2 linked regions of the Homo sapiens genome follow. The gene in region 1 interacts genetically with each later gene. Each region holds a gene or a part of one and is shown in the gene's direction. Other genes may lie near its edges.

Region 1 (10,921 bases):
ACAAAGAATATAACCTTGTTTGGTCAAATTCTTAGGTAAAGAAAAGTAATCAATGCTTGCATTGCTGTTGGAGATTCTAAAAGATGTATTGAATGAAGAGGATGTACACATCTCATTGTTACTGCGTATTTTTTTGCTTGGTATTCCTGCTTGCATTAAAGCTGGACAATGTACTGTGATGTAATTACAAAATTTTTATTCCTTCTAACGATTGAACTCTTCTTATCCCTATTGATAAAACTGTATTACAATTGATGAGTGTGGCTGCCAGAAAATAATACAAAACTGGGCATTTAGCTGTTCCACATTGTGTAGTAAATGTTTTGATTATGGGGATTTACAGTGTATATTAAAGTAGAAATGCTTTTGCACTTGTTTTCAGTCTCAAATAATAATTTTTGTTTTTAATTAAGGATACTTTAAAAGCAATGACAGAAAAATCTAAAATATCAGAATTAATTATTGTGAACTGTGTGTAAAATATCTTGTGAGTTTTATACATACTTTGGTTGTCTGATGTTTCCTAAGTATAAATGTCTTTATAGAAAATTTCAGTTCTCTGTGAAGAGTAGGAAGTGTACTGTATATTGAACTAGTTCTTTGTGTTACTTTGATATTTAAAATAAATATAAAGTTCTTTGGTCCTAATACAGCATATCTAGGTTTTATTGAACCACATTTTCACAGGATGGGAATGCAGTACTCTGAAACCAAGTAACTTGCAGCACATTTTAAAACATTTTCTCATAAGCTATATGTTTTGAAATATTTTATATATTAAATGTATAAACCATTAAACTAATTTTAAGTGTAATATAAATTCAAATATTAGTGATGACTTTTATGCTTGAAGTAGTCATATTATGCTGTTTTTTAGAGAGAAGTCTGAAGTGTAGTAAAATTCATTAGTGAAATGAGTTATTCTGTATAATATTGAGAGGGGCCACTCTTACCTCTAATCCCCCTCACTCCCAGAAACATACATTCTGGCTATGGGAGAAATGGTTGTTGGTTGAAAGCATAAACTGTAGGCTATAGGATGGTACCCCCAAACTTGCAAGTTGTTATCCCTATCTGGCACCATAAGTGAGCCTCCAATAGACTTTCTCTATTTTATCTCAGCAGCTGCTTCTGAGTGTTAGAAGACCAGTAAATTCTATAGGCATGAGCACATTTCTGCAAAATGAGTTTTCTGATTATAGCCAATGTCGTGTGTGATACTTAGTTTACTATTGCTGTCTAATACATTATACCGAACTTAGTGGCTTAAAACAACAAACTTTTATTACCTCCAAGTTTCTGTGGGTAAGGAATCTAGGCCGGATTTAGCTGGGTGGTTTTAGCTCAGGGTCTTTCATGAGATTGAAATCAAGCTGTTAAGTCAGTTGCCATCTCTAGAGGCTTCACTGGGGATGGCTTTACTTCCAAGCTCACTCGTGGTCTTTGGCCTTAGTTCATCACATGGCCTCTCCACAGGGCTGCCTAGTGATATGGCAACTGCCTGCCCCGCCTTCCCCCCACCCCTCCACACACACACCACTTTCCTGAAAGCAATCCAAAAAAGAGAGCGTACCCAGGATTTCAGTTGTTGTCTTTTTATAACCTAATCTTGGAAGTGATATAGTATCACTTCTGTATTCTATTGTCACTAATTCTAGTCCACATGCAAGGGACACAAATTAAACTCCCTCTCTTGAAGAGAGGATAGCAACAAATTTTTGGACATATGTGAAAACCATTACATATTCATTGGTTTATAGATAAAGCTTTCTGTAAATATATATATAATGGGGGCAGGTACAGTAATCTATACTCAGAAAAATATATTTATCCCAGAGAGGAAGAATATTGCATCTTCCATAATAGAAAGCGTTCAATGTAACCACATGCCACAGGTAGTTAGCTGGTCCCACTGGAGAATGGAATTAGACTGGATGTTCAGCATCAGCCTCTTTCAGTAGGTTAAGCACTCCACAGGGGCTTATCACATCAGCTTTGGCAAGGGAAACCACCTTGAGCCCATTCTTATCCTCCACCACTGCTGCCATAGCCACTTTCTAAATGGGTTCAACGCGCAAGCAAATGGATCTCTGGGGGAAGAAGCTGACCTCCACAGGATAGATTGTCCTTTTTACCTGATTTTTGAGCTCCTTCTCAGCCATGGATATTCTCTGATGGGCATTTACATGGAACACAAATTTAACTTCCTATACCTATTTTGAGAAGCCCTTTTATATACCGCTCCTCCCCAGACCAAGCTGTCACCAATTTTCCATTTTGTTTTCTCCAAAGGTTTGACCAGCTGGCCAACCTGTCAGCCATTATCCATGAATCAGCACAGAGCTTTACCTTAGGCCATGTTCTCTTCCTTATGAAGTGGACTACCAAACATACCATCCAGAATTCTCACTGAGAGTATTCCCATCCACCCCTAAGGAGAAGCTGTAATGTAAGTCTGTTTATGTCTGACCTACTATACAGCTTCATTCATAAATCAGGCCTTTTTTCTTGTGAAATTATCATTAAGAGATACCCAGTTTTTCCTGTGTAGTTTGAGAGAGAGGGAAGTGGCAAAGTAGTAGAAGTAGTAAAAGATACTTACTAAAATCTGAATCACCTGTTTGTATCACTTACTTGTGTATTTGGGGCCTGCTTAGCCCTGGTCTTGTAGATTCTGCTTTTGTTTGATAGTGCAATGTTGCTCTTCACATCAAATTTTATGGTCCTTGAGATTAGATCCCAGGTCAGCAAATATTTCGTAAAGGGCCAGACACTAAATATTTTAGGCTATACAAGCTATATGTTTTCTATCACAGCTATTCTGCCATTGCAGTGTGAAGGCATAGACAATATGTAAATAAATGCTTATGGCCTTGCTCCAGTAAAACTTTATTTGCCAAAAAAAAAAAAAAAAAAAAAAGCCAATGGGTCAGATTCAGCCCTTAGGCCATAGTTTGCTGATCCCTGGATTAGGTAATAGTTGATAATAAACAGTTTGTATCACAGTCACTTATAGTCCTTTGATGAGGCATTCAGTCTCTACCATACCTAATAGCATAATTAGGATCTGTTTTTCAAATGATAGATGATTTTCTGCAGAGGAAGGCATAGTCTTATTCTCCAAACCTGGAATTTTGTACTGTGATACTTCTCTGGAAACTTGCCAGAGCTTCTATTCCACATCTTGGATTGTCATGGAATGAGTGTTTTGGGCCATTGCAGCCCAGACCTACTGCAGAGATCTTACTTGTTCCAGGCCTAACTCAAAAATGTCAGTCTTAGAGTTTACTAGGTAAATGGTTTGGTGAGATGTGTCTTAATAATGCATGCATTGCCTCCAAAATCTAAAGAGGCTTTACAAATGATACAAAGTACAAGTTGCCTCTTATTTTAGAAGAGATAGCCTGACATGTCTCAGACCATTGGATCCCTAAAAACTTTACAGATGTGATAGGACCCTGAACTTTGTCCCATCTGGTTTACATTTGTTTTATTATTGGCATCCACAGTGCTTGCTCCTGTTGAGAGATGCAACTTACCATGGGCTCTGAGCAGGCCTACACATTCTTGCTGGCTATGCTAAGAATGTGAAGCCCTTATTAATTTCTACATAGGCCATTTCTCAGGATTGTGTTTGCAGAAATCTTGAGGGACGATAGGATGTCTCCCTGCCCAGGCATAGTACTATAAAAACAGTCAAATCTCCAATTCGCTCTTCCTTTCCTGTAATACAACCCACTGTGTGTGCAGGCATCCATCAAGGGCCCTTTGTATGGTCCCATGAGACTTAGGAAGCAGGAGGAATCAATGTGAATGAACATGCTGACACTCTAGCTACTGTTTTTTCTGTGAATAATAAAGTCTTGTCTCTAACCCAAAACTGTCATATTTTCTGCTGGCCTTTATGAAACTGGCACGCTAACTCTTTAGCTTGCAAGAGGGATAAAATCTCAGACTCACACAATTCTTGACAAGTACTTCTTGCTCACCAGGTTTAATTAGCAAATGTCATCAATATAATGGACCAGTGTGATACTAAGATCCAGGTCTCTCTGAACAATATTACAGTATAGGTAGGAAATTTGACGAGCCCTGAGGCAGGACAGTAATGCTACAGCATTGTACCACTACTTAAGTACAAAGTGCTTCGGTTTTTCAATACTGGATGAATGGGGAAAAACAAGAAAAATGCATTTTGCTTGATTCATAGCTGCAAACCAGCTGACAAAGGTATGTTGATTTGTGTATAAAAATAACACATCTGAAACTGTAGTGTAATAATTGGCATCATCACCTAATTGCTATAATCTACTATCATTTTCCAGAATCTATCTGGCTTTTGCACTGGCCAAATAAGTGGAGAAAGTGGGTATATGGACAAAATCACTATCCCAACATCTCTCAGGTATTCAGAATAATCTCTGAATTGCCGTGGTGGGAAAATGGTGATTTTCAGGGGCTTCCACTTGGCCCTTTCTCCAATAATTGCCCTTGTTCCTTGGATCTAGGAACCAGTGTGAGAATGTGGTCAGTAAGTGTTCCTATTTTATATTCTGGAAATGGGTGGATCCAAAGGACACTTGGTAAGACAGATTCTGACTTAGATGCCATCTGTCACCGGTTCTTGAGAAGCTCTCACTATGTCTGGTGGTCCACAGTGACATTTTAGGATTCTGGAGTATAGCAGAAAGGCAGAGCTATTATCTCATTATCTAATAACCCTTAGGAAGTCAAGTTCCTGCCCCCAATCCATATTCATGTGGGTAAATGACTGCAGTTCCCTCTGGGGAATTGTTGAGAGAAGATTTATGGTATTCGTGTTGCAGGGTTCTTTCTAGTCAAGGAGCTTTGGGTGTATGAACTGTCTTAAGTTTGGAAAGTGGGTAAAAGGCATAACTGCCACAACATTGGCTTCAGTTAGGTTTTTTGCTTTGCATATGTGGTATTTCTCTGCCTATATATGTTAGGCAGCACCATAGTATATAGCTCATCTTATTTATAGGGCCCTTGAGAAACTGGCCATTGCCACAGATCCCTGCCTCTAATTACAATTCTGCCATTAGCATATTGTGGTAAGAACTATACCACCTTGTCTATTAAGTGCCAATCGACTTTGACCACTTGTGGATCATATAATTCACATGGAGATCAGAGAACCTATTTTCATTATTGATCCTCTATCATCATTTCTGGCCTATAAAAAATAGTCACCCAGGTCTTTTCATGGATGCTGGAGTCCTTTTTATTAGTTAATGCATTTATCAACACCTTGGTAAAAGGAGAATGGGTGGAGGGTGTGCATGTTTAGATGTGACTTGGCCAAGCAGGTTGCACATGTAGATTTTCTCCAACATTCCTATCTTCCTGAGCTTTTGGACTCCTTCGTGTACAGAATGCCAGGTAGTTTGAGCATTTTGACCTAACTGCCTGTTTTGTTTTTGTTTTTATAAAGACCATGTCTCACTTTGTTGCTGGTTTTTAACTCCTGGGCTCAAGCGATCTTCCTGTCTCAGCCTCCCAAAGTGCTGGAATTACAGGCATGAGCTACCGTGCCTGGCCTTGACCTACCTGACTGTAAACCACTACTGAGTTCAGTTTTCAATTAGTGAACCTATTAAACTATTAAAGCCATTCCCAGGTACTTCGGACATTGTATTAATTAAATGGGTAAAGTGCACCCATGACAATAAATTTGGCCTTATTGTTCCTTATGATTTGTCCTCTTGGTCTAACACCATTACATTCCACCTTAGACTGTCAAAATCTTTTAACTCTTTGCTGTATAGGCTGTTTCCTCCCTCCCACAGCATATCTTGCACTCTCCTCCGTCCAAGTTTTATTTTTTGGAGCCTAACTAAGCTAATGGAGAGGTCGTGGGGGGTAGATGCTGAGGAGAACTGGAAATGACTTGTGAGGCTCTGCTCCAGGGTTTTGTTTTGTTGTTTTTTTTTTTAAGCCTCTATGAAAGAATTTTTTTTTTTTTTTTTTTTTTTTTTGACAGCGTCTTGCTCTCTTGCCCAAGCTGGAGTTCAGTGCCATGATCTCGGCTCACTGCAACCTTGCCCCCACCCCCCACCCCAGGTTCAAGCGATTCTTCTGTCTCAGCCTCCGGGGTAGGTGGGATTACAGGCATGCTCCACCACGCCTGGCTAATTTTTTTATTTTTAGTGGAGACGGCATTTCGCCATGTTGGCCAGGCTGGTCTCAAACCCCTGACCTCAAGAATCCGCCTGCCTCAGCCTCCCAAAGTGCTGGGTTACAGGCTTGAGCCACCGTGCCCAGTGGAAAAATTTCGTTTAAATATTGTTAAGGTCCAACTTCAGGTGAAATTGGACACCATTGAATATAATTTCATGTCTCATCTTCCTTATTTTGATTTCCCATTGACTTCTCTTTTTACATGTTTTGTGTAACCATACATACATCCAGACATTATTTTTATTTTTTAAGTTTTCTACTGCCTTTAGAGGCAATATAGTGTAGTGGGTAAGAGCAAGACTAGGGCCAAACTGCTGGGATTACAGGCATGTGTACCTATCTGGGTTATGCCACTTCCTACTTAGCTGTATGACCTGTATTCCTCATCTGTAAGATACAAATAATGGTACCTACGCCCTAAGAGATACCTCGTAGGTTTAAGGCAAAGGTTGAGATAAATAGGTAAAGGATTTTTAAAAAATCCCTAGCCTAGGGTCGGGCGCCGCTCAGGCCTGTAATCCCAGCACTTTGGGAGGCCGAGGCGGAGGCAGGCGGATCACTTGAGGCCAGGAGTTCCAGACCAGCCTGGCCAACATGGCGAACTCCCCTCTCTACCAAAAATACAAAAATTAGCCAGTCGTGGTGAGGCGCGCCTCTAATTCCAGCTACTTGGGAGGCTGAGGCAGGAGAATCGCTTGAACCCGGGAGGCGGAGGTTGCAGTGAACCAAGATCACGTCACTGCACTCCAGCCTGGGAGACAGAGCGAGACTCCATCTCAAAATAAATAAATAATTTAAAAAATCCCTAATATGTAAGCTATAATTATTATTAGATCCCTACAATTGAAATAAAAACTAATAAGATATTTGTGAAGGGCATTGCCAGTCAAAACAATCATTTATGAATTACTGGTAATCTCAGGTTTCATTTGTTTACCTGGTTTTGCTCCCAGCGTCCCGAGGTAATTAACAGCATGTAAATGTACTGAGTCCCTGCTATGTTGTCACTAAAATAAGCATGTTCATACAAACTAATTATCTTTACATCTCTACCATTCAGCCCTGGAAACCGCGACAGTAAAGTTAATATAATTCTGGGCGGGGTATGCATATGAGAGGAGTGGCATAAACCAATTTTTGCCTACGTAACAGTTTTATCTATGATTGTTCCTGGAAACCGCAATGATTACTACATGTATTGTGGAAATGCTGTGACTCCCTTCCCTTCAGCACAACCAAAAATATAAAGACGAATTTCAATTCTAAGCCCCGGGTTTTAGACGGTGGCCAGGATTCCGCTACCGTTCTCACCTCCTCCGCAGATAGCGATTGGCGGCCGGATGCAATCATTCAAATGAAGCGCCGCCGTCTCATTGGCCAGGGGATGCTGCTCACCGATTGGTCCCGTGACGAGGAGGGCGGTGCCCGGAGGTCCTCATTGGTGGAGGCGGCAAGTTTAAACAGAGTCAAAACGCCATACTTGTTTGGCTCCTCTTTTTAATTTGCGAGTTTATTGGGCTTGTTTTCTGTTTTCTAGGGAGTAGGTTAGTGGAAAAGAAAAAGGGCCGAATTCACTCCCACGACCTCTACAGCCGCCCCTGAGGGGAAGCGGTCAGCGTAAGTCCCGGATCCCCGCTCCGGAGCCGCCTCGTGGGAGCGGGGCAAGGAGATCCAGGAGGGGTCTCGAATCTGCCATGGCGAACCGGCGAGTGGGGCGAGGCTGCTGGGAAGTGAGCCCGACCGAGCGGAGGCCGCCCGCGGGGCTGCGGGGCCCCGCGGCCGAGGAGGAGGCGTCTTCCCCGCCGGTCCTGTCTCTCAGCCACTTCTGCAGGTCTCCTTTCCTTTGCTTCGGGGACGTTCTCCTGGGAGCCTCACGGACGCTGTCTCTGGCCCTAGACAACCCTAACGAGGAGGTGGCAGAAGTGAAGATCTCCCACTTCCCGGCCGCGGACCTGGGCTTCAGTGTGTCGCAGCGCTGTTTCGTGTTGCAGGTAGGTCTCAGGAGGAGCGTGCTCCAGGCCGGTGTTCTGCTTCTCCGCTATCTTTCCTGCCACCCTCCTCAGGAAGGTTGACGATTGGAGAAGAAATCAGAAAAGACCCTTAGAGAATAAAGTCAGTTCCCTTTCACTCAATAACTGTGGGTGGCTCTTGGAAAAGAAATCAGAAAAGACCCTTAGAGAGTGAAGTCAGTTCCTTTTCAATAACTGTGGGTGGGCCCTTGACGCATACACATGTGTGTGAGTATATATATATGTGTCAATATTATATATATATATATATATATATTCTCTAATTGAAGGCTAGGATAGACGCTAACTTGGGCGGGGACAACACATAAACGCGCGCGCACTTAGCATCTTTAGGAGCAAGTTATATAGACTTCTCTGTTAAATTGACAAGCACTTTTACTAGACTTAAGGCGTTGTGAAATAGCCTTGCCGTTCTAAATTAATAGACAATGCACTTTTTTAACACTTTTTTAAGATTGACAGGAGTACCTTGGTTGGTTAAAGCAGCTTTTTTTAAAATTTCTATCAGCCATCTTAATATGCATTTTAGTTTCCATATGTACCCTTAGAGTCGAGGTAACTGGTTTTTTTTTCCGGTGAAATAGTGAGCTTTGTTCTGGCTAAATGCCTACAATAAAAACCAAAAAAACCTATTCAGAGTTGTTTTCAATATATACGTGTAGTATGTATGCACACTTTAGTATTTTAGTCCTTTTTTTCTTTGCTGTTAAGTGTAATTTTAATGCTGCATCAAATTTAATTTTATAAATGTTGTTTCAAGAACTCCTGTAGCTTTCTTTTACTGCATTGCATTTGCAAGAGTAATGCTCCAATCCCCTTCACCAAAGACTGGAGAATTTATGTTTTTATTTTGACTGCTGTGACCTTTCCATTGAGTAGAATCACCAAAAGTATGAAAACCGTTAGCCGAGGAGGTCTGAACTAGTAGGCTAATAACCACTTCATTAGGCAGAAAAAAGAGATTCTAATCTGAGGTCCCTTAACTTGTGTGTCACCAATGGTTCATCTATCTACACTTCAGAACCTACCCACCCCGCCCCTCTGTTTCATGAATCACTGCCTGCTTTCCTTTCTTTGGAAAGACAGATTTCTTTTCTATCCACATAATACTTCAACTTACTCTTTTTTGTTATAATGTGGAACTAAATTTTGTGGTATTTTTAGAATAAACTATTTTATAGAGTAAAAATGCACCATTCTTATTTTTTAAAATTAGTTGTTTATGATGTTATATTATTTCTCCTTTAAAACAGAAACTTGTCTGTTTCTCCTGAAAAACAAAATTTGTTTTGTCATGTCAGCGTTTAAATTTGGCAGATTCTGTCTACCTGCCAGGGTGTGGGGTGTAGATGTTAAAGTCCAAACTCTGGCATTAGACTGCCTGGGTTCTAATAGGTACCTGCGTGACTTTGGCAGACTTTTCTGGATGTTAGTTACTTCATCTGTAAAATGTGCATAATCATAATACCTGCTTCCTAGGGATGTTAGCATTAAATGAGTTTTACAGGATACCTGCACTTATGCCTGGAACAATAATACCTGTTTAAGAAATCTCAGTATGATGATGTGGACCTTAGAGGAATTTGTAAGGAAGAAGGAATTTAGCTGATCATCTTTACATTTCTTTTTAAATAAAGTCTTCATAATGCAGGGTCCTTGTGTTTGAAGTAGAAGTACTCTACACATCTAAAAATTAGAAATGTACAATTAAATCTTTTGAAACCACTCAAACAAAATGATTTAGAGACTATCTGTTCTATTGCTTTAATACAGTTAAGATTTTATTATTTATTTTGTTGTGAACCCTGTTATTTTTAGTGACTTTTTTTCTTATAATTAAGCAGATAGGGTAGGAGAAATATATTTGATTTATTAAATGTTTAGTATATAGAGTGTTGGTTAACAATTATTAAGCCCTACTATATTGTAAGTTGTATATAAGGTGTTTTGGTTATTATGTAATTACTATTGTAATTATATAATGTATTGTTTTGATTATAGCCTAAAGAGAAAATTGTTATTTCTGTTAACTGGACACCACTCAAAGAAGGCCGAGTAAGAGAGATTATGACATTTCTTGTAAATGATGTTCTGAAACACCAAGCTATATTACTAGGAAATGCAGAAGAGCAGAAAAAGAAAAAGGTAATGTTTTAACCATTCTGTGATTTACTCTAAGAAATTGTTTAATAATAAATAAAACTTATTTTGATAACAGGCTTGAAGTAATATTGCTTATTTAATATTCAATAGCTACAAACTTAATTGGTATATTTTCCTTATTTTTGCAGAGGAGTCTTTGGGATACCATTAAAAAGAAGAAAATTTCAGCCTCTACAAGTCACAACAGAAGGGTTTCAAATATTCAGAATGTTAATAAAACATTTAGTGTTTCCCAAAAAGTTGACAGAGTTAGGAGCCCACTACAAGCTTGTGAAAACTTGGCTATGAATGAAGGCGGTCCCCCAACAGAAAACAATTCTTTAATACTTGAAGAAAATAAAATACCCATATCACCTATTAGCCCTGCTTTCAATGAATGCCATGGTGCAACTTGCTTGCCACTCTCTGTACGTCGATCTACTACCTACTCATCTCTTCATGCATCAGAAAATAGGGAACTATTAAATGTACACAGTGCCAACGTTTCAAAAGTTTCTTTTAATGAGAAAGCTGTAACTGAAACTTCCTTT
Region 2 (10,362 bases), on another chromosome or scaffold:
ACACCATTTTTCATTCCCATCAACAATGCACCAGGTTTCCATTTTCTCCACATCCTCACCAATACCTGTTATTTTCTGTCTCTTTGATAGTAGCTATCCTCATGGGTATGAAGTGGCGTCTCATTGTGGTTTTGATTTGCATTTCTTTAATAAGTAGTCGTGTTGGGCACCTTTTTAATGTCCTTATTGGCCATTTATATATCCTCTTTGGAGAAATGTCTGTTCAATCCTTTGCCAACTTTTGAGTTAGGTTGTTTTAGTGGTTGTTGAGTTTTAGGAGTTCTCCATATACTCTGATATTCATTCCCTATCAGATATTTAATTTGAGAATATTTTCTCCCATTCTGTGGTTTGCACTTTTTTCTCTGTTGATAGTGTCTTTTGATGCACAAACGTTTTGCATTTTCATGAGGTCCAATTTGTCTGTTCCCCCCCTCCTTTTTTTTTTTTTGGCCTGTAACAATACATCAAATTTTATATTCAAAATGACCTTTTGATTTCTACCTGTAACCTATTTCTCTCCTAGTCTTTTCCCTGACAGTAAACAACATGACCAGCCTCCCAGTTGCTCAGATGTCTGGGAATTAATTTTGAGTCCTTCCTGTAACCAGTACAATGAGGATTCCTGTCAGTTCTACCTCCCAAATATCTCTTAAATCCTTCTTGTTAAACCTCTAATTTTTATATTATGTTAGGATGTAGAAATACTGTTGATTTTTATATATTTACTTTGCATCCAAGCTAATTTCTCTTATTAGTGCTAAGAGTCTTTGATGTTTTGTTCTTTTGTTTTTTGTAGATTATTTGGGATTTTCTGTGGAGACAGTCTTCTGAGAATTGACTGATTTCTTTCTTTCTAATCTGTATGCCCTTTCCTTTCCTTCCCTCCCTTCCTTCCCTTCCTTCCTTCTCTTCTCTTCCCTTCCTTCCTTCCTTGCCTTCCTTCCCTTCTTTCCTTCCTCCCTTCCTTCCCTTCCTTCCCTTCCTTCCCTTCCTTCCCCCCGTCTTTCCCTTCCTTCCCTTCCTTCCCTGACTGCCTGCCTGCCTGCCTATTGCACTGGCTAGGATTTCTAGTATGATGTTCAGTGAGAGTGTGAGAGCAGACTTCCTTGTCTTGTTCCTGATCTTGGAGGAAGGCAGTCAGTCTTTCACCATTACCTATGATCATAGCTATACTTGTTTACAGATGTCCTTTATCCAGTTAAGGATGTTTATTTCTCTTCCTAACTCACAAAGAGATTTTATTAGACAATGTATTTTAAGGCTATTTGGAAAACAACCAAGATACTAATGTCTGCCTTAATGAATATGGACAAAAATAAATCATACCTCTCACAGTACCACTGATACAAATAAGAATTTTGTAATTATCGTTATCATGCTTTTTACCTCCTAGTTTTATTTTGACCAATTGCATTAAAATTTTTTTAAGTGTTTTAAACGCTTTGCAGCTTTCTACACTGCTCTCGCCATTCCCACCCAGGGCTCCTCTCCGTGGGGGTCAGGTGTGTGCTGACATTGGGGTCCCTGTACTCTTGGCACCCACTTCTCAGCAGATACCTCTTATCCACCTTGGAGACCCCAGAACAATCCTTCTCTGCCCCTCTTCTGAGTCATGTCTTGCCATTTTTCAGAGTCTTTCCCCTTGTTTCCCTGCCTTTCTTCCTGTCCTTTATATACATTCTTTTTGTGAACATAGAACCCTGCGTGAGACAGGAAACTCATTGAAGCTCTGTGTCCTTGGGCAGGTTTCTGTTTTTTCTGTTCATGATGCTGGTGAGGTTGGCTTTGGGCTTTGGGTTCTCATATATAATGGGACATTTTTGAGACAGAGTTTTGCTCTTGTCACCCAGGCTGGAATGCAATAGTGCGATATTGGCTCACTGCAACCTCTGCCTCCCGGGTTCAAGCAATTCTCCTGTCTCAGCCTCCTGAGTAGCTGGGATTACAGGCCCATGCCACCATGCCCAGCTAATTTTTGTATTTTTAGTAGAGATGGGGTTTTGTCATGTTAGCCAGGCTGGTCTCAAACTCCTGACCTCAAATGATCCTCCTGCCTCAGCCTCCCAAAGTCCTGGGAGTACAGGCATGAGCCACTGCACCCAGCCACAATGGGACTATTTTTCAGGAAGCTCTGCTAAGTTGTGCTATGATCTTTGTTAATACTAAGTTGTTGTTAATATAGTACGTAACCCTACAGAGATTCTGTTACATGCAAATGAGAGCTTGTTAAAGATCATGCAAATGTTGGCATTCAACTTGGGTTTTTGTAATCTAGGATTTACTCTTTTATTTCCAGATTCTTAACTAAAAACTATTTCTGTCCCTGGGGAAGATTTTCATTCCTTCTGAAACGATTTACTGGTTGTTATGCACACACAGTGGGTCGCTGATAAAAATGGAAGAATTTATTACATTTAGGGGGATGGGATGTGGAAAGCAGACAGCTGACAGCTTTGCATTCTTGTTTGTACCAGACTCTAGACATCATTATCTTAGTAGGAATTCTTACAGCCATTCCTGAGGTATGGGAATTATCATCCCCATTTCATACACGATGAAACCAAGACTCAGAGGAACCAAGGGACTTACCTAAGGCCATGCAGCTTGTAAGGGGCAAGAGACCAACCCCAGGGCACACTCACTCCACCTCAGCACCTGTGACTCCATGCAAGAGGTATAGAAAGTGTTGGAAAAGCTACACAAGAAAGAGGCTCATCTTTTTTTTTTCCAACAATAAATAAATAAATAATTTTTTTGAGACAGAATCTCACTCTGTTGCCCAGGCTGGAGTGCAGTGGCACGGTCTCAGCTCACTGCAACCTCTGCCTCCCGGGTTCAAGCGATTCTCCTGCCTCAGCCTCCCGAGTAGCTGGGACAACAGGTGTATGCCACCATGCCTGGGTAATTTTTCTATTTTTAGCAGAGTTGGGGTTTCACCATGTTGGCCAGGTTGGTGTTGAACTCTTGACCTCAAGTTGTCTGCCCGCCTAGGCCTCCCAAAGTGCTGGGATTATAGGCATGCATCAGTACGCCCTGCCAAGAGGCTCATTTTTGCTGAAGGAAATTTAGGGAAGATGAGCTGCGTTTTTTTTTTAACAGATTACTGGGGGATATTGGTGGTTTCCCCAAAAGCAGCATCCCTCTTTGTTTGGAAACACACATCACATTACTGTGTGTAATTCCCAGCTCTTCCTTGTTGGTTGCTTCCTAGACAAGGTTTCCTTCCCAAGTCAGCCTTTCTTTTGAACTGCCCCTTCTTAACTTTTCTGTTTATGGTCATTAGGGATTCGGACATTTTTCCATACCTGCCTCAGTTAGCATGTGAGGGGCCATACTTAATGACTTTGAAAATCAAGAACAGGAGATGCTCTGCACCCCAGTGTATTATAAAGTCCTCATCCTGTGTCTCAGGGCAGCCAGGAGAAGTCATCCTGAGAGCAACGACCTTAGTTTGTGACCAGGACACTGTAGACAGCACCTTGAGCCAGACCACCAAGTTCAAATCCCCACTCCTCCACTGGGTGTCCAGAGGAAGCAAGTCGGTGCACACACAGCTCTGAGAACAGTGCCTGGCCTGTAGGAAGTGCTAAGAAGTATTGTCAGTGATTGAATATCCCAAAATCCCCAAGTCAGTGTGAACAGAAAGAAGAAGAAGTGAGAGGGGCGGCTTTGAGGTCTTTGAGAAAATCCAGTGAGGAAAGTGGTAATGAATCAGCCTTGGACCACAAGGGTCGCTTTGAGAGAGTTTGTTGTGTTCAAAGCTACAAAGGACTTGTCTTTCCTAAACTGGCATGGGAAAAGAACCAGACACTGGAGTCTTAGAGAGGATCATGTAAGTCAGCACAGATGCCTGCAGTCCGGGTTCGGCTAAAGAAGCAATGTCAATCAATGGCACCTTCGATGCAGACGGTAGGTGAATGAACCCCCAGCACCCCTGAGAGAGAGGCCTCCTGGTTTCTGGTGCAGGCAGAACCTGCTTCTCCCTAAGGCTCCCTCCACTAGGCTTCAGGCCGTGCAGCCACCTCTCACCTCTGGACACCAGTGGAATGGGCTCGGGAAAGGCTGGCTGACCCCTGCAGCAGGAGTTGGGGTCTGAAGCCCAGTCTGCTCAGCCTCCTGTGGAAGCAGGTCGTGCCTGCTCCAGGGACCGAGAGTCCTCTCTTCCAGGGGTGCTAGGGTTTGTCTGCAGTCCACATTGGCCTCATGGCTGGTCTGAGTTGATCCAGGCTGGCCCTGGGGCTGCCAGTCCAAACATTCATTCCAGCCACCTGGCTGGCTTCCTCAATCTTCTTTAAGCCCCAGAACCATGGAGTCAAAATCTTTGAGTTTTTTTTTTTTTTTTTTTTCGGTGAAAATTATACATAAGCTTGGGAAAAGGGAGGAAGGAAAGAAGGAAGGGAGGAAGGAAAGGAAGGGAGAAAGGAAAGGAAGGAAGGAAGGAAGGGAGAGAGGCAGGGAAAGAAAGAAAGTATTTAGGTTGGTGCAAAAGTAATTGCAATTTTTGTCATTACTTTCAGTGGCAAAAACTGCAATTACTTTTGCACCAACCTAATATAAAGGGTTTTAAACCAAGTGTAAGACTCCCTCCCTCTCTGCTTCTGTTTCCTGGATTTAACCAGAGTTAACAGTTTTCTTTGAATCTTGGGGGACATTTTATCCATAATACATGAATACATGTGAGGCTTTTAAAAATTTGTGTGTGATTTTATTCCTCTGTGCCTTATATTATTAACTTACTATATATTAAAGATTTTCTCATAGCATTAATATAGATCGCCTGTTTCTTATCTTGATATTTATTTATTTCATTAGGGTTAAATATAAAACTATTGCAGTGAGATATTGAAATTCTGAACTCTTACACGTCTAACAATGTAACTAAAAGTAAATGACGTGAACCTTGGCAGAATTACAGAAAGAGACAGATCAATCCACAGTTACAGCGACAACTTAACCAAGTCTCTCAGAAACAAATATACATCAACAGGCCGAAAGAAAAGGATAATGACACAGAAAATTTGAACCACACCATTAATGAGTTTGATTGAGTAGAAATATGAGGAACTTGGTATTCAACAGTGAAAGAACGCATGTTCTGCCCGGCGCGGTGGCTTACGCCTGTAATCCCAACACTTTGGGAGGCTAAGGCAGAGATTCGCTCTTGTTGCCCAGGCTGGAGTGCAATGGCGTGATCTTGGCTTACTGCAACCTCTGCCTCCCGAGTTCAAGCGATTCTCCTGCCTCACCCTGCCGAGTAGCTGGGATTACAGGTGCCCGTGCCCATGCCCAGCTAATTTTTGTATTTTTAGTAGAGACGGGGTTTCACCATGTTGTCCAGGCTGGTCTCGAACTCCTGACCTCAGGTGATCCACGTGCCTCGGCCTCCCTAAGTGCTGGGATTACAGGCATGAGCCACCACGCCCAGCCTAATTTTCTTTTTTATGAAGACAGGGTCTCACTGTAGTGCCCAGGTTTGTCTCATAATTCCTGGGCTCAAGTGATCCCTCCCACCTCAGCCTCCCCAAGTGTTGGTATTACAGGTGTGAGCCACTGTACCCAGTCCACTAATATTTAATCTCAGGATTGACTTCACACCATCACTCAGCAACATAGGGCAGGGGGCCATGTAGTCATGGAATTTCTAAGGTATCCTGGGGAAGGATGGGCAGAGGCCCCCGTCGGACTTGTTGGTTTGCTTTTAGCACGTGACTGCATTTTGCAGTTTCCATGTGCTAGGTGGAGTGGATTTCCAGATTACTCTTTTTTTAAATTTTATGTTAGTAAGTACTTAAGTTAGTTATTTCAAGTGAATAAGCCCCTGGCTTTCTCAGGACGTGACCCTCACTCTTCCAGGGAAGCCGTGGCGGACGGAGCAGACGGAGGACCTGAAGCGAGTGCTTAGGGCAGTGGACAGGGCCATCCCACTGGTCCTTGTCAGCGGCAACCATGACATTGGCAACACCCCCACGGCCGAGACCGTCGAGGAGTTCTGCCGGACTTGGGGAGATGACTACTTCAGCTTCTGGGTCGGGGGCGTCCTGTTCCTGGTCCTCAACTCCCAGTTCTACGAGAACCCCTCCAAATGCCCCAGCCTGAAGCAGGCTCAGGACCAGTGGCTGGACGAGCAGCTGAGCATCGCGAGGCAGCGGCACTGCCAGCATGCCATCGTCTTCCAGCACATCCCGCTGTTCCTGGAGAGCATCGACGAGGACGACGACTACTACTTCAACCTCAGCAAGTCCACTCGGAAGAAGTTGGCAGACAAGTTCATCCACGCAGGTAGAGGCCCCGGGCCACGGGTTTCAGGGAGGAAGGACAAGTCTAGAGAGGGCATTTCCAGATCTTTCTCCCGTCTCTCTGCAATGTGTCAAAAAGGGAGAGAGGACTAGGCCGGGAGTTCTGATACCAGCTCTTGGACTTGCAGACTGCATGTCTGGCTAGTTAATCCTCCTGTGCCTCAGTTTCCTCGTCTATAAAACAGGAATAGTAATAGTAGCCTTATTGCAGGATGGTGTCAAGGATTAAATGAGAAAGGCCTCCAAGACATGGAGAACAGACCCTAGCCTAAGTACTCAGTGTGCCATAGCTGCTCACAGTTGAAGATTGGAGTTCTGGAAGTGGCAGGAGGGGTTTATTGGGGGAAGTAGACTGGGTAGTGCAGGTGGGTGTGAATGTGGCTTGCATGTGCCTTGGGAGAAGGCAAGATGCCAGGGACATCTGCTTTCACTTCTCTGGGAAGCAGGCACCTTGCTCAAGGGCAGACGATCTTTAAGAGTCAAGCTGCCCTCCAGTATTCATCAGCTGTGACTCAGGAAATCCTGGGATGTGGCTTTAGCGGACAGTTCCTGGGGCCTGATCAGTTTTCCTCTGCCAAGGTAGATTAAGTTCTCCTCCAGAATCAGGAGAGAGTAACGGATTTAGTCCCATCTTTTGCTGCCAGTGATATATGTGACAGACACGTGCACGCACAGAATGAAGACCCTCCATTTCTGGAGGTCACACCTCAATTTCTGATGGCACTCTAAGGCACTAGCCCACCCACCTCCTTTATCTTTCTGGTAGCACCTGCCATGGGCCTTTCAAGAGAAACAGTCTGTTCTAGGCAGATTCCCTGGGTTACCAGTGATTTGGCAAATTCCAGTTTTGACAACTGTTGTGTCTCTTCTCTTTGTCCTCGTTCTTCCTTTCACCAGGGCTTACTTTTTTTTTTTTTTTTTTTTTGAGACAAAGTCTTGTTCTGTTGCCCAGGCTGGAGTGCAGTGGCAAAATCTCGGCTCACTGCAACCTCCGCCTCCCAGGTTCAAGTGATTCTCATGCCTCAGCCTCCCAAGTAGCTGGGATTACAAACGCTGACCACCACGCCTGGCTAATTTTTGTACTTTTAGTAGAGATGGGGTTTCACCATGTTGTCCAGGCTGGTTCCAAACTCCTGACCCCAAGTGATTCACCCACCTTGGCTTCCCAAGGCCACGGGACGTGATCAGTTTTCCTCTGGTGAGGTGGATTAAGTTCTCCTCCAGAATCCGGAGAGAGTAACGGATTTAGTCCCATCTGGGAATACAGTGCTGGGATTACAGGTGTGAGCCACCCCACCCAGCGGAACATTTTGTATTTTCAAGACATTTTGCAATAAGCTCACATAATTGGAGATGTTTTCCAGCTGTTCCATGGAGATAAAGTTAGAAAACTTCTATTAAGTCGTTTGAAATTTCATGCCATGCTTGAGTTGGTGCAGAAAACTGTCTTGATGACAAGGAAACAAAGCGTCAAGGCGGCATGAGCACCACCATGGAGACTATTCTGTAGTGGAGAATAAAGCCAGAGAGAACATTTAATGCCATTGAAGTGATTCCTTTCATATCCAATGGTATTTCTTTTTTTTTTTTTTTTGAGACGGAGTCCCGCTCTTGTCACCCAGGCTGGAGTGCAGTGGCACCATCTCGGCTCACTGCAACCTCTGTCTCCTGGGTTAAAGCAATTTTTCTGCCTCAGACTGCTGAGTACCTGGGATTACAGGCACCCATCACCATGTCCAGCTAGTTTTTGTATTTTTAGTAGAGACAGTTTGGCCAGGTTTAGTTTCACCATGTTGGCCAGGCTGGTCTCGAAACTTCTGACGTCAGGTGATCCACCCACCTCGGCCTCCCAAAGTGCTGGGATTACAGGTGTGAGCCACCGCAGCTGGCCAGATCTAATGTTAGATGATGTAAAGCCCATGACTGCCCTGAGTTCTTTGTTCTTGTTCTTGTTGACCACATTCCTGAGTGGTATGTAGTTCTGTGGTTTTCCCCTTGTAGGACAGAGCACCCCCAGATACTGAGAAGACTCACAGTTCTAATTTTTTCTATTGATTGATTGATTGATTGATTGAGAGTCTTGCTTTGTCACCCAGGCTGGCGTGCAGTGGCGTGATCATGGCTCACTGCAGCCTCGACCTCCTAGGCTTAAACAATCTTCCCACCTCTACCTTCTGAGAACCTGGGACTATAGGCACACACCACCATGCCCAGCTAATTTTTTTAATTATTTGTAGAAACGGGGTCTGACTGTGTTGCACCTCACTGGGCTTTAACTCCTGGCCTCAAATGATCCCCCTGCCTTGGCCCCCCGAAGAGTTTAAATTACAGGTGTGAGCTCTAACAGGGCACCCTTGGGAGAAGCCTGTTGACCACCCACCAAGGGCCCTACAGGGTGGCATCATATCCATGATGCCCCAGCCCCCTGCCCACTCAGATCTGCAACCCCTCAAGCACAGGAACCAGAGTTGCTGGCAAACCAAGAGCTGGTCTGTGTCTCCAATTATCCCAGCTCCCAGAGACTGATAGCTACAAACCAGAATGGCAGTTGATTAATTTAGAGCAAGACCGCAGCCCTGGCCTCCACCCCAGCGGTGCTTTCTCTTCCCGTAGGCAGAGCTACATGGGAAGCCCAATTATAATCAGGAGGCTGCTTGGTAGGCATGAGAAAACAGGGGGGTTAGCTGCCTTATTCCACTCTCAGTGACATCAGGCGCTGGAATCCAATGGCTCCATCTCCGGAGGAGCTCGCTAGCTGAAGGCACTTGGTTATTTCATGTCCCTTTAATTCTACCTCCTTCGTGTCTCTGTAGCCTGTCCACTGTCTCATCTGGGTCTTAGCAGCAGCTCTGCACTGTGCTCCCCACTCTGCTCTTACCCATTCTAGTTCATTCTGCACCTAACAGCAAGATGGGTGTGTAACTGACTGCAAAGCATGAGGCTTCCCTCCACCCCCAGGTCCGGCCCAGCTCTTCACTGCAGTGTCCAGGGCCCTTCTCAGTCACATCTGCCTTCCCCTCCAGCCTCTTCTGGTTCACCTGCCTAGGCCCACTCAACAATTTTTTGTTTGCTGAGACATTCTCACTCTGTCACCCAGGCTGTAGTGCAGTGGCATGATCTCGGGTCACTACCACCTCCTCCACCTCCCAAGTTCAAGTGATTCTCCTGCCTCAGCCTCCCGAGTAACTGGGATTACAGGCGCGCACCACCATGCCTGGCTAATTTTTGCATTTTTAGTAGAGATGGGGTTTCACCATGTTGGCCAGGATGGTCTTGAACTCCTGACTGACCTCAAGTGATCTGCCCGCCTCAGCCTCCCAAAGTGCTGGAATTACGGGTGTGAGCCACCACACCCGGCCTCAACATTTTTTTTTTCTTGAGATGGAGTCTTACTATGTCACTCAGGCTGGAGTGCAGTGATGTGATCATAGCTCACTGCAGCCCTGGATTCCTGGGCTCAAGTGATCCTCCCACCTCAGCCCCCTAAGTAGCTGGGACTACAGGGGAGTGCCACGATGCCTGGCTAATTTTTTTATTTTTTGCAGAGATGGAGGTCTCACTGTGTTGCCCAGGCTGATATCAAATTCCTGGCCTCAAGTGACCCTCCCGCCGGGGTATCCCAAAGTGCTAGGATTACAGGCATGAGACACCACATCCCGCCTCCCACTCAACTTTGACATCTTCTGTATAAGGCTCTCCCCTCCTCCCCACCCCAGGTTCTTCAGCTTCTCTTATCCCAGCACTTGTCAGGTGGATTTGCAAGTGTTGACTTGTCTGAATCCCCGCTAAACTCTCAGCTCCCTGAGGGCAGGGACAGGGTCATATTCAGCTATGCAGTTGGGAGACCTGGCTCAGATATTAGCTCATAATAAATGTTTTATCAGTATTTGTGGAATGAATGAATGAAAGTCTTTGGGCCAGGTGTGGTAGTTCACACCTGTAATCCTAGCACTTTGGGAGGCCAAGGCAGGTGGATCACCTGAAGTCAGGAGTTCAAGACCAGCCTGGCCAGCAGGGCGAAACCCTGTCTCTACTGAAAAATGCAATAATTAACCAGGCCTGG

Evidence for each region.
Region 2: changes in ASPM (region 1) and CPPED1 together harm fitness more than expected from each alone (negative genetic interaction), as found in Homo sapiens cells (one study listed by BioGRID).

The regions. Positions count from the first base shown.
Region 1 is NC_000001.11:197,143,409-197,154,329, reverse strand, and holds the start of ASPM (abnormal spindle-like microcephaly-associated protein), read left to right. Parts: upstream 1-7,660; 5' UTR 7,661-7,892; coding exon 7,893-8,189; intron 8,190-10,229; coding exon 10,230-10,373; intron 10,374-10,519; coding exon 10,520-10,921. UniProt on the Homo sapiens protein: Involved in mitotic spindle regulation and coordination of mitotic processes.
Region 2 is NC_000016.10:12,700,544-12,710,905, reverse strand, and holds part of CPPED1 (serine/threonine-protein phosphatase CPPED1), read left to right. Parts: intron 1-5,856; coding exon 5,857-6,282; intron 6,283-10,362. UniProt on the Homo sapiens protein: Protein phosphatase that dephosphorylates AKT family kinase specifically at 'Ser-473', blocking cell cycle progression and promoting cell apoptosis. May play an inhibitory role in glucose uptake by adipocytes.